Linked DNA regions of Homo sapiens: region 1 is linked to region 2. The links come from fine-mapping of genetic effects on gene expression. Tissue or cell type: whole blood. Region 2 holds a variant in brackets; the other region holds the start of a gene. All regions are shown on one strand. Distances are from middle to middle.

Region 1 (8,185 bases), 25 kb before region 2:
AAGTCTGATAGAGATTAATCTTTTAATGCATCATAAATAAAAAAGAAAATCACAGAATGATGTAGCTGGAGAGGACCCTGGGGATCTAAAGTGTTTCATGAAAGATTAATGTCCTTGATCTGTTTGTAAGTGTTTTGGAAAAATCTTCCATGGTCAAATAAAACTTGGCAATGTTGGATTAAAGTTAAATAGGTTTTTTTTCCTGCAGAACTTCATAGTCTTTAATATGCTAATGTGTTTTGTGAATCTACAAGGAATGAAGTGTTTCAATACTTATTTTACCCAGATTCTCATTTTGGGACAGGCTGGTCAAACTGAGTCAGCTAGTATATTCTCTAGATGGAGATGATGGCTGATGCCTTTTTGAGAGCAAGAGAGTCCCCAGGGGAAGCAAGGATATATCAGTTGCTCCTATTTCATGCCAAGAATCCTCAGTCTTTAGAGGCTCAGAGAAGGCTGAAAGGCTACTCTAGGCTATCAGGGCTACCATTCATTGTGACCCATGCTACAGAGAAGCTTTGAGCTCAGTGCAAAGGAGTGACCAGCCCTTGAGAATCAGGAAAATTTATTTATTTCTGACCTAGTCCACTGAGGACATACAAGGAATGGGGCAGGGGAATGTCACCAGCTATGGTTACAAGCTAGTCTGATTCTCTTTCATTAAGAAAACTGGTCCCTGTGAGTTTAGATTGGGAAGCACCAGGTTAAAAAAAATTTTTAGGCCAGGAGTGGTGGCCACTGTACTCCAGCGTGGGTGACAGAGTGAGAATCTGTCTTAAAAAAAAAAAAAGTTAATTGATGTCTTCTGTTGAGGACCTCTCAGAACTTTTAATATGAAAGTGTGCATTGTGAAGAATGGGAGTAGAGTGTACAGGAGTTTTAAAAGCTACTTGGTCATGAAACTCTTGCTTTGTGCAGGATTCGAGGGGCACTAACATTCTGAGGAAAATATTTTGGGAAACATTGATCTAATCCAAACTTCTCATTTTACCAGCAAACAACTGTGGGGCCCTCTAAGTTTCCTTTCTCCATCATTGTGACAAATTCATTGGAATTAATTCAATTAAACCTGGGGTCAGCTTTGAAGAGATTTATTTAGCAGGTAAATCTGTTTTGTACATTTTGAGGGAGTTCTGAGTTTCCATAGTCAAAAACCACAGAACAATTTAACCAACCTTTATGGAATATCACCTATGGCCCAAAGACCCTTTAGCTACAGTGATGGTCTACAAAAATATAAACTGTAATTCTTGCAATACAGGAGATTAGTAATAATGGTAAATATAATGATGATGACACCATGAATAGCTAACATTTATTGAATGCCTTTCTATTAGTCAGGCACTTTACTAAGTATTTTAATCCTCCCAACAATTTATGAGGTAGGGATTATAATAATTCCCATTTTATAGTGAGGACACTGAGGTTAGGAAATTATCCTAGCCTAAATGTTAGGTATAAGCATGAATAGAAAGGTGTTATCAGCCTATAAGACATTCCTTTATGAGTGATACAAAGTCCTATATAAATTCAGAGAAAAGACAAATGGTTTTAGAAATCCTTGATCAGTGAGTGTGAAGCACGTGGTGGCCCGGTTACTGTTTGGTTGCCCATCTGTCCTCCCTCTGGGGATCAGCACCCCCTTACTTTGGAAGACTTGTTTTCCTTGTCACTGTAAGGTTCTTTCTGGCTATGTGGTAGGGCACATTGCCTCAAACTAGCCCTGTTCCAGTCTTTGAGAACCTTGAAATTGGAACCAAGGGAAGAGGATTGCCTCTTGAATGGTAATTCTCTAAAATCTAGTCTGAGGTGCTGGTGCCTAATCCCTGGGTCTGTGGAAGGAGCTGGGCTGTGAGAGGGGAGAATGATGTTGATGTCAAGAGAGAGGCAGGTGCTAGGAGCAGAGAGATGGAGGCCTGGAGGGTTTCTGGGCTTCTCTGAGGCTTAGGGTTTGGATCATTGTCTTCGTTACTGGAACAAAGGATTTACCATACCTGCTCTTCTGGGAATGAAACTGTCCTGCTTTGCAAAAAAAAGTGTCATTAGAAAGAGATCTTAAAAACCCCACACCATAGACAGGTGCACAGATCCCTAGAAGTGTTAAAGTTCTGTCTGTTGGATGCTAAGCCAAGACTCTTAAGTATGTTCTAAAGAGAAACTGGTGTGTGTAGGCTGTGCACTCCCAGGGAGATAAAAAGTTAGGAACTTTATGGGTTGGGCTTGGTGGCTCACACCTGTAATCCCAGCACTGTGGGAGGCTAAAGTGGGCAGATTGATTGAGCTGAGGAGTTCGAGACCAGCCTAGGCAACATGGTGAAACCCCATGTCTACAAAAACTACAAAAATTAGCTGGGCGTGGTGGCATGTACCTGTAGGCAGGAGGATCGCTTGAGCCCAAGAGGGAGAGGGTGCAGTGAGCCATGATTGTGCCACTGCACTCCACCTGGGTGACAGGAACTTTATGGGAAATGGGATCTTGGAGACTGAGTAGAGACTAGAGGAAAAAAAAAAACTACCTCCCCGACTGGCCACACTATTCTTTTAAAAAAATGTTAATTGACAAATTAAAATTGTATGTATTTACGGAGGTATGATGTGATGTTATGATATATGTATACATTGTGGAATAATTAAATCCAGAGAATTAATAGATTCATCACCTCAAAACCTATCTTTTTTGTGGTGAGAACATTTGAAATTTATTGTCTTAGCAATTTTGAAATACACAATACTTCATTGTTAACTACAGTCACCATGCTGTGCTGTAGATCTCAACAAAATATATTCCTCCTGTCTCAACTAAAACATTGTACTCTTTGACAACATTTCCCCATTCCTCTCACCCCCTCCAAAAACACCCATTCTTTATGTTGAAGAGAATGGCTAAAAAGTCCCAGCAGGTTTCAACAGACGGCTTCAGTGGTTGTCCCATCACACTTCAATGTTATTAATAAAAAGGGGAGGGGCAATACATAATTCGGACAGGCTGAAAGTACCATTGTAACCACTTTCTTGACTTCACAGAAAAAGTCCTCTTGTTTTCATCTGTAAAATGGGAACTGCATGAATACCATTCTTCTTTTCTTCAGCCTCCAAAGAAAAAACAGATGCAAAGCCTTTAATCAATTGCAAAACAGTATACAATGTGTGTTATTACTCACAGTTGTCTTACTGTGACCAAACACTTTATAAGCCTGCGGCAAGTCAGCCTTACTCTCAGTAAGTGGACAATATTTGGGGAAGGAGAAGCAGCAGGATATTTCAGGACAGTAGCCTTGGTGGGTCCAAAAATTCCTTGAGAGAAATGGGAGATAGAACTTTCTTCCTGCTTTGGGTTTTATCCTGTTAGTCTTTTCTCTCTTCACTCCTATTTTCTATGGAGAATTTCCTGGTTTTGGAGTTTGGGTGCGTTTTATGGAGAGGAGGCAGAAAATCTTTAGCTCCAGCAGAATGAAAGGATACATGCAAAGGAACCTAGCACAGTATCTGGTACCCAGGTCTCCTTTAACTTGGCTTTATTCATTCACTCCTGGTAGGGCATTAATAAGGGATTTAGCCCCCTCCTATTGAAAACGATTAATTCAAGGAAGAGTTCAGACAGTGTGGACAGATACAGTGTAGGAAAGCCTATTTCTAAGGCAGGAGCTGGGTAGGGAGGGTGAGAAGGGCGAGAAGAATAGGGAAATATGTGTCGTCTGTGTTGCTGCTGTTGCAACCACCACAACAAACAAACAAGTGAAAAAAAAAAAAAAAAAAAAAAAGAATTGTCCATACCGGAAAGTGTGCTGTTTTGGAGGAGGCTGGGGAAAGTGTGGATGGCTCGAGTGGGTCCTGTTGGATTGAAGTCTGACAGTGGTGATTCCCTTCAACAAATGGTCGGGGTGGGAGGGTACACACACACACACACACACACACACACACCCCACACGCAGCGCCCAGCCTCCGATTTCAGCGCTGGCAGGAGATAACCATTCTTAGCTCGCCTTTCCAGGGTTATTTTTGGCTGAGGCTGTTCGCTGATGGCAAAAGGTTTCAGCCCCCTCCCAAATCCCTCCCCGTCCTTGTTCTAAAGAGAAACTGGTGTGTGTAGGCTGCGCACTCCCAGGGAGACAGGGAGACGGGCCGGGCGCCGGAGAGGAACCCGGACTCTGCCCAAAGTCTCGCCGCCCGCCGGCTGTTTTCTGGCGGAGGGTGTGCCCCGGAGGGCGGCGATCGCGGGTGAAGGCTGGGGCCAGGCGCGGGTGGAGGCGTCACCGGGGTCGGGCTAGCAGGCCCTGGAATCAGGCTTTTGGGACACCCCGAAAGTGAGTCCAACTTGGGGAGAAACTGAGGGCAGCTCGGGCGGTCTGGCAGCGGAGAAGGTGGGTGGGAGAAAACTTTACAGGAAGGCAGAAGCAATCTCTGCCGAGAGAGTCAGCCGAGCGGCCGCGCGGAGAGGAGGGGCGGGCGGTCCCCAGGCGGGCGGGTGCAGGGCGCAGGGCGCCGACCTGCTGGAGAGGGGGCCCGGGCGCGAGGCGGAGTCCCGGCGCGCAGCCAGGCTGGTGGAGGCCCCCGGCAGGCTGCAGATTCCCTCCGGCTCCGGGAGCCGCAGCAGGACCGGCCAGGAGGCGCCATGGAGGGGAGCCCCATCCCGGTGCTGACAGTGCCCACCGCGCCCTACGAGGACCAGCGGCCGGCCGGCGGCGGGGGTCTGCGGCGACCCACCGGCCTCTTCGAGGGCCAGCGCAACTACCTGCCCAACTTTATCCAGAGCGTGCTGTCGTCCATCGACCTGCGCGACCGTCAGGGCTGCACCATGGTGGTGGGCAGCGACGGCAGGTACTTTAGCAGGACGGCCATCGAGATCGTGGTGCAGATGGCCGCGGCCAACGGGGTGAGTGTCCGGATGCCCCTCGCTTCCCGCCGCGCCGCCGCCATGCCCTCTCCTAGCCCTTGTCCCCCTGCTGCCTCCGGGCCCAGTTGGGAGGCCCCTGCCCGGCCCCGGCTTTGCTACCTCACTCCCGCGTCCTCACCCTCCAGCGCCCCACTCCCGCCGCGCTCGCAGCCTCCCCGGTGCACCCCGGACACTGGGTTCTATTAGTACCCACCGCCCCCAAAAGCCTTGAGGGGTTTCCGTCGTTCCTGGAGCCACTCCGGGCGCCCTGGACTCTTCTCCGACTCTGCGCACATCCCGCACCTGCTCATTTTTCTTTCGGACATTCTCTTACCCGGCCCTGTAGATTCCAAGGCAGCTCCCAGTTTTCCATATTGTTCCCAACGCATTCACTGCCCACAGTCCCCACACAAACTTCTTTCGCAGGCTCACAACATAGTCCCTCTGCCCCGTGCCCTTTTTGCAATAATCTGCCAGTCCCCTAAGTCTTAGCTCTGCCTATTTAACAGTAGTGGTGTCTCAGAACACACACACACACACACACACACACACACACACACACACACACACACACACGATCCCTGACATATTTGGCAAGAGTAGGCCCTGAAGGTTTTTATTATTTTGGTTCTTTAACCCAGTGGAATTACTGAATGATTTATTTAATTAGGGTAGGGATGGAGTGGATCCATTTGTTTGATGCTAAACAGCCTGAGCTCGCAGTTCCCAGGGGGCATATCTCTAAATGGTCTGAAATGAGATTTGCAGTGGTTTTCTTAATGCAATTCCCAACTTCTCTCCAAATGCCTTTTGGCATTTGACAACATTTCATGCCTCTTCCCCTTTCGGTTTTCATCCTTGTTTTCTCTCCCTTCTCCCACGACCTCGGTAGTCTTCTGCAATCCAGATTCTCAGACTTCAGGTTTTTCTCCCTCTGCCCCTTTCCTCTCTGTCCTATAACTAGAAGCACCTTTTGGCATAGACCCATATCCCAGTTTCCTCTTTCCCAGGTCCAGCAGCATCTCAAGGACATCTACAAGAGGGATACCTAATTTCAGGGGTCTCTGAATTATATGTGGGAAACATCGTCTAAAAAAGTAATTTTATCCTTATTCATGCAACCAGACCCACACTCATAGAACTTTTCTTTAAGGAAAGTGTCTTGCAGATGTATAAATGAGTGTTAACATCTTTAAAAGCGAAACTGAACAATTCCCTGGCATTTGAATTCCCTCCTTCCTTCCCAACCCTCTCCTTTTCATTTTCTCATTTATTATTAAAAACATTTTTAAAGGATCTCCATGCTTCATATTTATCTACTATAATTCCTCCTTCTCGGTGTTGCAGGGATGGGGAAAGAGGATTTTTTTAAAAACATAATAAAACGCAATTGGGAGAAACAGGGCCAGTGGTGTTGGGGTGGGTAGTGGAATTGTGATTTTTGACTCCAGTAGACAATGATGCTGGATATATGGGGTTTGATTTATCTCTGGCTCCTCACTTGGGATTGATGAAGTTTGGCTAGAATCAGGGAGTTGAAGAGAGGTTGACAAATGGTCTTTCACTCTTCTCTGACAGGCTGTTCCTGTGGAGTGATGGAGAATAACGAGCCTTGGGAGAGCTATGGGAGCTCTCATACTTCTTCCCGAGCCAATTTTTTAGGGAGTGAGAGAAACATGGCCTGTCCAATACTTGTTGTGGGTCAGGATATTTTTGAAGCTACGGTTGTTGATTTGCATGGGAAAATTATTATGTCTTATTATTTCTTGTCCCACTTTACCATAAGGACTCCTCAGCTTCTTACTTCAATGGGTCTTCTATGACAAACACACTTTATTAACTCTAAGAGTGGAATTTATTTTAACAGATAATTAGCATAGGTCAATATATGCTTAAAATAGGGTCAAATTAAACCTACTAGCTGTTATAAAGGACAGATGACAAATTAAAATCCACATAGAAGCATCGACTCTTAAATAATCTGAAAGTACTACTTCTAAGAGGGGTGGGCATGGGTGAAGGGAATGGTGGACATGTTTCAGAATTTCAAACAGCCAACTTTAACCAATCTTTTCCTCATTTTGTTCACCTTCTTGGGGGCTTATGCTAAAGTGAAGTGAATAGCCATAAGGCTGGCTTCAGGAGAAAGGTGGTCTAAAAGAACTGGATAATTATAAGCAAAATTGGTCTTGAATGATTGAAAATTGATGAGAATGTGCTTGTCTCCTGATTTGGCATCCTGAATTAGACTCAGGAATACTGAACTTGGATCCCAAAGGCTTTGGTCTTTTTTGATATCCTATTGGATACTCATAAGCAGGCTAGAAAAATAGAAAACTAGAATTTATTCTCTTTGAACTGACAAATCTAACCAGTGGGCTGCATTCTCTATATCTGAAAAATCTTGGTTTTGATTGAAAAAGTTAATTTTACAAAGCAATTTTCTTTTTTTAAATTAAATTTCATTTTTTTTGAGACTGGGTCTCACTTTGTTGCCCAGGCTGGAGTGCAATGGCACAGTCTTGGCTCACTGTAGCCTTGACCTCCCCAGATTCAGGTGATCTTCCCACCTCAGCCTCCTGAGTAGCTGGGGCTATAGGTGCATGCCACTATGCACAGCTGATTTTTGTGTTTTTACTACTCATAGGGTTTCTCTGTGTTGCCCAGTCTAGTCTCAAACTCCTGATCTCAAGAGATCTGCCTGCCTTGGCCTCCTAAAGTGTCATGAACCACCATGCCCAGCCTACAAAGCAATGTTCTAGGAAAAACTACAGTTACTCTTTGATTATGTAATTGCTGGAGAAGAAAAACATGGCATTTCTAAAATGATGAACTATATTACTTATATTTTAATATCTCATAAAGTTTGAAATAGACATTTCAAACATAAACATGTATAAAAAATTTTATAAATTAAAAATATAATATCAAAAACATAAAATTATTTTATTATAAAATTATTATAGAATCAAAAACATTATAAATTTAAACAACTTTTTTAAAAATTTATTTTGGGATTTCCCATGGAGTGATGGAGAATAATGAGCCTTGGGAGAGCTATGGCAGCTCTCATACTCCTTCCTGGGCCAACTTTTTTAGGAAATGGGAGAAATATACCCTGTTCAATGTTTATTGTGGGTCAGGATATTTTTGAAGCTATAGTTGTTGATTTGCTTCAAACTTTAAAAAATTTATTATAAAATTATGGGATGTAAAAAAATTTATTATAAAACTTTGAAATTTTCAAACTTTCAGAAAAGCAGAGAGATGAGATTAATGGCACTCATAGGCAAACATAGAACATAGATTGTA
Region 2 (8,185 bases):
ATGAATGACCTCCAGATCTCTGCTTAGCATGACTGGGTAATTTCTCCAATGTCTCCAGCACATGCTGTCACTTAACAGCAGAAAGAGAATTCCTACTTTCAGGAGAAAAGTCATTCCTGAAGATTACAGTTAAAATATGCCCACAGGTGATGAGGTTGTACTAAATCAGTCCCCTTGCTCTCTGAGCTTGTTCTAAGTTACAGGAAGCAGAAGAAGCAGAGAAGCACTCCATTTCTTTTTTCTTGTAATCTCTAGCATGTCCACATGCATAGTTTCTGAGTCAGTAGCAAACTAAGAACTTCTTGTGTGATTCAAGCTAACCCCTCGATTATCAGAAGCAGATGTTTCAAACTACTGAAGATCAATGAGGCATATCCTATTTACAGGTTAATAATTGACTACTAGATGCAGGTGCACCAAATGGTCTTAGAGACATTAGATAGGAGAGACAATGTCAGTGCTCCCCCTACCCTGCCTCCCCTAATCTAAAGCCTACTCTGTTTCTTTTATCAAGTTATTGGCTGTATGTTAACAGAGCCTGGGGCACTTTCCTGTTGAAATGGCTTTAATCCCAAGGAACTGGATTGATTTTTTTTTTTGGATGGTTTAGATTGGACGACTGATTATTGGACAGAATGGCATCTTGTCGACACCTGCGGTCTCCTGCATTATCAGGAAGATCAAGGCAGCTGGTGGAATCATTCTAACAGCCAGCCACTGCCCTGGAGGACCAGGGGGAGAGTTTGGAGTGAAGTTTAATGTTGCCAATGGAGGTATGTGGTTCAGCATATGCCTTAATAATTACGATTTCTTTCCTCTTATATTATTATAGTCTCACAGTGACTCTTTGATGATAGACAAGCAAGGTGCAGAGGACCTAGCTCAGAAAAATTCAGTGAGGTGCCCAAAGAGATCCAACAAAGAAGTGGCATGATGGGCTCATGAACCCATTTGGGTGGTCTCTTGGTCCCCTGTACTCTTCAGCATAAACTATTGAATAGTTGATGCTTATCTGATATGGAAGGACTCTGAATTTTAACATTAAAACATACCCTGAAGGTCGTTGTCTAAATGAAAATGACCCTCATTTTACACATGAACAAATCAAAGGCCTGAGAGGCTGAGTTACTGCTGAAGGCCACAGGGTTGATCAGGGTCAGATTAATGATTTTTAGCCCAAATCCTGGCCTCTCTTTTTCCTACAGTGTTGACTTTCTCTCAAAATCATAGAATTGTTTCACTTTTTCTTATATTCACAGCAATCTATAGTTTGGGGGTCCTTAGTGGAGGGGGTGGGATATATGTATGGAGTAAATTTCTTTTAAAATTGAACACACAAAAAAATAGGGAGAATAAGAAATAGATAACATGTACCCATTATCTTGTTTTTCTATTTTGCTTATCTTTTTTTCTGAAGAATTTTAAAGCAAATTATAGCACGAGAACATTTCACACCCAAATATTTTTGTATGCATCTCTAAAAAAGAAAGACACATTGCTGCATGACTGTGCTAACATACCTAACAATAATAACATTAATTCTCCAATATCACCTGAAAACTAATCTATAGTCAAATTTTTCAATAATCCCCAAAATATTATTATTTATAGCTGTTTTATTCAAATCAGGATACATCTAAGGATGCCATGCATTTGCTTGGCAAGTCTCTTAAATCTCTTTTAATCTAGAACACTGAGTTTGCATGAATGTGGGTAGGAGCCAAATTTTAACCAGCAACAGTTACCATTATAAATTATTCCTCATCCCAGGCAAAGCAGTGCAGTCTGAAGGGAAAACTTATTATCTATCCCTCCTTGCAGACGTTTTACACGTTATCCAAACAAGAAAGTGTATTCATGTTGAATATTTAAAAAACAATATTGTAACCACAAAGCAGAAAACTAAACCACCAAACTACAAAGGTAGACAACAATAGAGGAAGAAGAGAACAAATTATCTACAAAGTAACCAGAAAACAATTAGCAAAATGGCAGGAGTAAGTCTTTTACTATCAATAATAACCTTGCTGGTACATGGGTTAAACTCTCCAATCAAAAGATACAGAATGGCTGAGTGGATCAACAACAAGATCCAACTAGATGCTGCCTACAAGAGACCCATTTTTAAACTTTAAGAATAGGCATATATTGAAAGTAAAGGGATAGAAGGAGATATGCCATGAAAACAGTTACCAAAAGAGAGCAGGGATGCCTATACTTATATCAGATAAAACAGACTTCCAGTAAAAAGCTGTTCCAAGAGACAAAGAAGGTCATGATTTAATGATAAAGAGGTCATCTTATCAAGAGGACATAACAATTGTAAACATATATGCATCCAACATTGAAGCACTTAAATATGTAAAGCAAATATTAGTGGACATGAAGGAAGAAATATACAGCAATATAACACTAATAGGGGACTTCAGTACTCCACTTGCAACAATGGAGAGATCAACCAGACAAAAAATTAACAAGACAACACTAAATTTGAACTATACTTCAGACCAAATGGACCTACCAAACCTACATTCATCCAACAACAGCAGAATATACATTCTTCTCTAGCATACATAGAACATTCTCCAGGATAGACCATATGTTAGGCCACAAAATAAACCTTAACAAATTCAAAAAGATTGAAATCATGTCTAGTATTGTTTCCAACCACAATGGTGTGAAGCTAAAAATCAATAACAAGAGGAATCTTGGAAAATTTACAAATATGTGGAAATTAAACAACATGCTTATGATGAACTAATGGGTCAAAGAAGAAATCAACAGGGAAATTAAAAAATACTTTGAGATTAATGACAATGGAAACACAATGTATCAAAACCTACAGTATGCGGCAAAGTCAGTTCTAAGAGAGAAGTTTATAGCAATAAATGCCTACATTAAAAAAGGAAAAAGATCTAAATAAGTAGACTAACATTATGCCCCAAGGAGCTAAAGAAAGAACAAACTAAACCCAAAGTGAGCAAAAGGAAGGAAATAATGAAGATCAGAACAGAAGCAAATAAAATGTAGTATAGAAAAACTATAGAAAATATAAATAAAATCAAAAGTTGGTTCTTTGAAAAAATAAAATCTACAAACTCTTAGCTAGATTCACTAAAAAAAGCAGACTCAAATAAATAAAATCAGAAATGAAAGTGGAGACATTGCAATAGATACCTCAGAAATAAAAATGGTCATAAGGGATTATTATGAACAATTTTATGCCAACAAATTGGAGGACCTAGAAGAAATGGATAAATTTCTAGAAAAACTAACCCAACAAGATTGAATTGGGAAGAAACAAAAAGTTTGAACACTCCAACAACAAATAAAGAAATTGAAGAAGTGATTAAAAACTTTCCAAAATAGAAAAGCCTAGGACCAAACGGCTTCATGGCTGAATTTTATCAAACATTCAAAGAATAATTATTACCAACACTTCTTAGACTCTTCCAAAAATTAGAGCTACAGGGAATACTTCCAAACACATTTTGT[T/G]AGGCCAGCATCACCTTGATACCTAAAGCCAGACAAACATATTGTAAGAAAATAAAACCACAGGCCAATATCTCTGATAAATATTGACGAAAACCAAATTCAACAACACATTAAAGAAATTATGAATCATGGCCAAGTGGGATTTATCCCTGACATGCAAGACTGGCTAAACAGAATGAAAGATAAAAACCACATGATCATCTCAACTGGTGCAGGAAAGGCATTTTAGAAAGTTCAGCATTCTTTCTTAACAAAAACTCTTAACACTTTAGGTATAGAAGGAAAGTTTCTCAACATAATAAAGGTCGTTTATAAGAAACCCACAGCTAACATCATAATCAATTGGGGACAACTGAAAACTTTTCCACAATTTAGTACATGGCAGGGATGCCCACTCTTGCTATTTCTATTCAACATAGTTTTGGAAGTACTAGCAAGAGCAATCAGACAAGAAAAATAAATAAAAGTCATCCAAATTGGAAAGGAGAAAGTAAAATAATCTCTATTTACAGATGATATGATCCTATATATAGAGAATTCTAAAGATTCTACACATGCACACACACACACACACACAAACACACACACAAATTTTTAGAACTAATAAATGAATTCAGTAAATTGCAGGATACAAAATCAACATACAAACATCAGTAGCATTTCTATACATAAATAATGACCCAGCTGAAAATAATCAAGAAAACAATGCCATTTATGATAGCATCAAAAAAATACTTAGGAATAAATTTAACCAAGGGGTGAAAGTATACTGAAAACTATAAAACATTGATTGAATAAGACACAAATAAATAGATATCCTGTGCTCACTGATCATGGATCAAAAACATTAATATTATTAAAACATTCATACTACCAAAAACAATATACAGATTTAACACAACCCCTATCAAAATTTCAATAACATTCTTCATGGAAATAGAAAAGCAATACTAAAATTTGTTTGGAGCCCCCAAAAACCAAAGCAATGTTGAGGAAAAAAAAGTTGGAGGTACCACACTTGCTGATTTAAAATTATATTACAAAGCTAAAGTAAAACCAAAACAGTATGATACTGGCATAAAAACAGAAACATAGACCAAGGGAACAGAATAGAGAGCCCAGAAATAAATCAAGGCATATATAGTCAAGTAATTTTGGACCAGGGCACCAAGAGGACATAATGGAGAAAGAAAAAAACCTCTTCAATAAATGGTGCCTGGGAAAACAAAAATGTAAAAGAATGAAATTGGACCCTTATCTTACACTATACACAGAAATAAAATGAATAAAGAACTAAATATAAGATCTGAAACCATAAAAATCCTAGAAGAGAACATAGGGAAAAAGTTATTTGACATTGGCCTTGGCAATGATTTCTTGGATATCACATCAAAAGCTCAGGCTACAAAAGCAAAAACAAATAAATGGGACTACCTCAAACTAAAAAGCTTTTTAGCTTTTCCATTTTTCATTTATTTATTTTATGCACTTTAAAATCTCTGGGTATTCTTTTTTAGCATCTTAAAATTTATTTTTATATGAGTGCCTGTAGATTTGCCGTATCCTTTAAAAAACAATTATTTTAATATATATTATAATTGTACATATTTTTGGTGTGCATATGGTGAAAGTCATTGGAGTGGAAGATATCAGGGAGCTTGGAAATTGAAAAGGAATTCAGAAGTTGTTGATGAACTCTGAAGTTATCAGCATGGATGGTTGAATGGCATCATAGACAACTATCTAGAGAGACAGTACTTTCTTTACTTTTGGAAATCAGTGTGCTTTGGCATTAAAACTCAGGGACTTGAAAATGATGGACACAGCCAAAGAATATAGTATGGTGCCTGGGGTGTAGGGAGTGGAGGGAGATATTCATGCATTCTATAATCTGGCAAGCATAAAATAATGCAAAAACGAAACAAGACTACCTATTCTTTAAGTTTTGTGAAGGGTAAAAAATGGTAAGGAGTGAAGAAAAGGGCTATGTTTATTTCTTTGAGGACTTCACTTTTCCCACACAACAAGAAAATTGTTGGTAAAATCTTCTGGGCTGTCTTCTCTCCCACTTACTAGAATAGGACTATTGCTATTCTTTTTTATGAGCATGTATTGGAATACGGTGATGGTGCTACACTCTAAGGCAGCGTTGTCCAACAGAAAAATATTGTGAGTCACATACATACTTTACATTTTTAGTAGCCACATTAAAAAAGTGAAAAGAAACAAGTGAAATTCACATTGTGTTTTATTTAAACTACTATATCTAAAATATTATTATACCATGTCATCAATATAAAAATTATTAATGCAATCGATTGCATTTTCTACTAACTCTTCAAAATTTGGTGTGCATTTACAATTGCAGCACACCTCAACTTGACTAGCCACATTTTAAGTGCTCAACAGCTAAATGTGACAAGTAACTATTGTATTGGACAATGCAGTTCTAAGGATTGAGATATTTTAAAAATCAAGAAACAATTTTTGTTCAGTAGAAAGTTACAGTATAGTTGACAAGTAAGATTCATACAGAAAGCTATCTATACATCTAGCGATCATTTATACTTTAGATCTTTCAATCTACTTATTTGTTTCTCAACCTTGTTGCAAAAAAAAAAAAAATCTGAAATGGCTTGCATTAAGATATACAAGGTAAAAAAAAAAAAAAAAAAAAAGCAAAACCCCAAAAGGTGAACAAGTATTGATTTCATGTTCAATTTATTTAAAGTCTAATACTACTTGTCAATTTGGTCTTCCGAGGAAATGCATCACATATTTTTAGTTGAGCTTCATTTTGGAAGTGACTAGAGATTGTGAGTTGGGGAAAATAATTAACTTACCCTGCTAAGCTCACACATCAATTAGGTAGCAGAGCTGGGAATAGAAAGCATAGTCTCCTCTTCTAGATGCACTGGGGAAGCTGCATGTAAATCTGGAATCCCTCACTTCTGTCAAATGCATATCCTGTTTGTGTCTCATAACCTGAATAAAGCTGATTACGTAACCAGGTTTCCCTGGCAGGTGTGAAACTATTTTTAGGAAAGATGTGTCATTGCTTAGAAGTGGATTAAAACAAACAAACAAACATATGGGTTGTTAGTCTACATAGAACAGGTGAGGCTGATCAAATTTCCCCCATAGTGGATGAGTACAGTATAAGAAATATCAAGGCTAATTGAACTGTGAACCATTGATCATTGTTTAGAGAACAAATGAATCTTTTTCTGCCTGGTGGAGGAGGATGGTAACATTTCACTGCTTGAAACTCACGAGACTTTCAAAAACATGTATTTTTGGTGTTCACATTTTAGGTCCTGCACCCGATGTTGTCTCAGACAAAATCTACCAAATCAGCAAAACGATTGAGGAATATGCTATATGTCCTGATCTCCGAATCGACCTATCTCGACTAGGAAGACAAGAATTTGACCTAGAAAACAAATTCAAACCATTCAGAGGTAACAGAGATTTTATTTTGAAGAAGTCAGAGTAACTATGTGGATGGGGCTGACTGGTTTCTGTAGGGAAGTAAACTCATGAAAATTATTGCATTGTTAATCTCAGGGGTGACTCGATAAATGTGTGTAAACTTAATATGGTGTAGAGAGAAGACATGAGAGCAGCCAAGATATTCAGAACTGGAAACTTTCAAAAACCACTTCCCAAACTCGATATCATTTTCAACATAGGAAAAGTTTTATGGTTGACTTCATTATAGCATTCCAAAAATAGGCTGTGAATTGCCAAAACTTGTCTAAGCAATTAAGGTGAAGATGCTGGAATGCCTTAGTTAAGAAGAAACCTAACAAGTCAATGGGTTATTAAATTTCTCATGAAAGGTAGGAGTTTCTTTTCCAAGCCATAACCAAGCTTGGAATAATTATGCATCAGCTTATTGAATGCATAATTATTGATCACCTGCCCTATACCAAGCACCGTGTTAGGAGATTTTACAAAGGAATTCAGTAACTATCAAATATATTTAGGCAAGTGATTCAAAAATTAAAGAACCAAAATGAGATTGTCAAAAATATTATCTTATATTGTAAAGCAAATATAACTTCTACAGTATTCAGAAGATAGCTTTTTGTTTTATAGATTAATTTTAGACCATATGACAACAACATTAATAACATGTATGTATACATTTTCCCCCTGTATTTTATCATATTGCTTTTTCCTAGAAGGCATAGAATAGCAATAGATCTAACATGTTTTACTTTTTTAGTGCTTCTATAAGCTTGAATGCAGTTTGTGTTAAGATGGTATCCTCATTTTAGAAGTAATTTAACTTAGCCCAAAAGAGGAAATACCTGGTTTGTGTCCATGTGATATTTTAGGGATAGAGAAAAGATTAAAATGGATTGTGTGGGGGGTCACAGTATTTGCCCAATGTTACCAAATCTTTCTTGAGAAGTTTTGAGTCAGTTGTTTGCTTAGGTAATGAGCAGAAATTTACAGAGAGCCATGATACTCACTGGAAGCAACAGTGCCTGCTTTTGCTAATCTAGCTGGGAGAATGCATAGGCATATGTGTGCACATGCATGGGATGGCTGGACAATTAAAGGCAAGGGGTACATTATATTAAGCAAAATGATTTCAATATGCTGATTACATATGGTTGGAAGGACTAGGCTTATTTTTGGCATCTTCACAATTTTTATAGTTGTCCGAGAGACCCGAATC

Evidence for each region. PIP is the estimated chance that this variant, and not a neighbour inherited with it, causes the effect.
Region 1: it holds the start of PGM5, and the variant in region 2 is fine-mapped to the expression of PGM5 in whole blood (INTERVAL, PIP 0.98).

The regions. Positions count from the first base shown.
Region 1 is chr9:68,352,516-68,360,700 of GRCh38, forward strand. PGM5 (phosphoglucomutase 5) reads left to right here and starts at 4,096. Exons shown (of 11, transcript NM_021965.4): 1 at 4,096-4,873. The coding sequence starts at 4,613. It overlaps PGM5-AS1 (PGM5 antisense RNA 1), which reads right to left and starts at 5,351. Exons shown (of 3, transcript NR_121192.1): 1 at 5,208-5,351; 2 at 3,775-3,831; 3 at 2,649-3,090.
Region 2 is chr9:68,377,589-68,385,773 of GRCh38, forward strand. It overlaps PGM5 (phosphoglucomutase 5), which reads left to right. Exons shown (of 11, transcript NM_021965.4): 2 at 611-773; 3 at 6,810-6,956. Among named protein-coding and RNA genes, the nearest start is that of PGM5-AS1, 24 kb to the left of the region's middle. The variant T/G (reference allele first, on the strand shown) is at 3,496.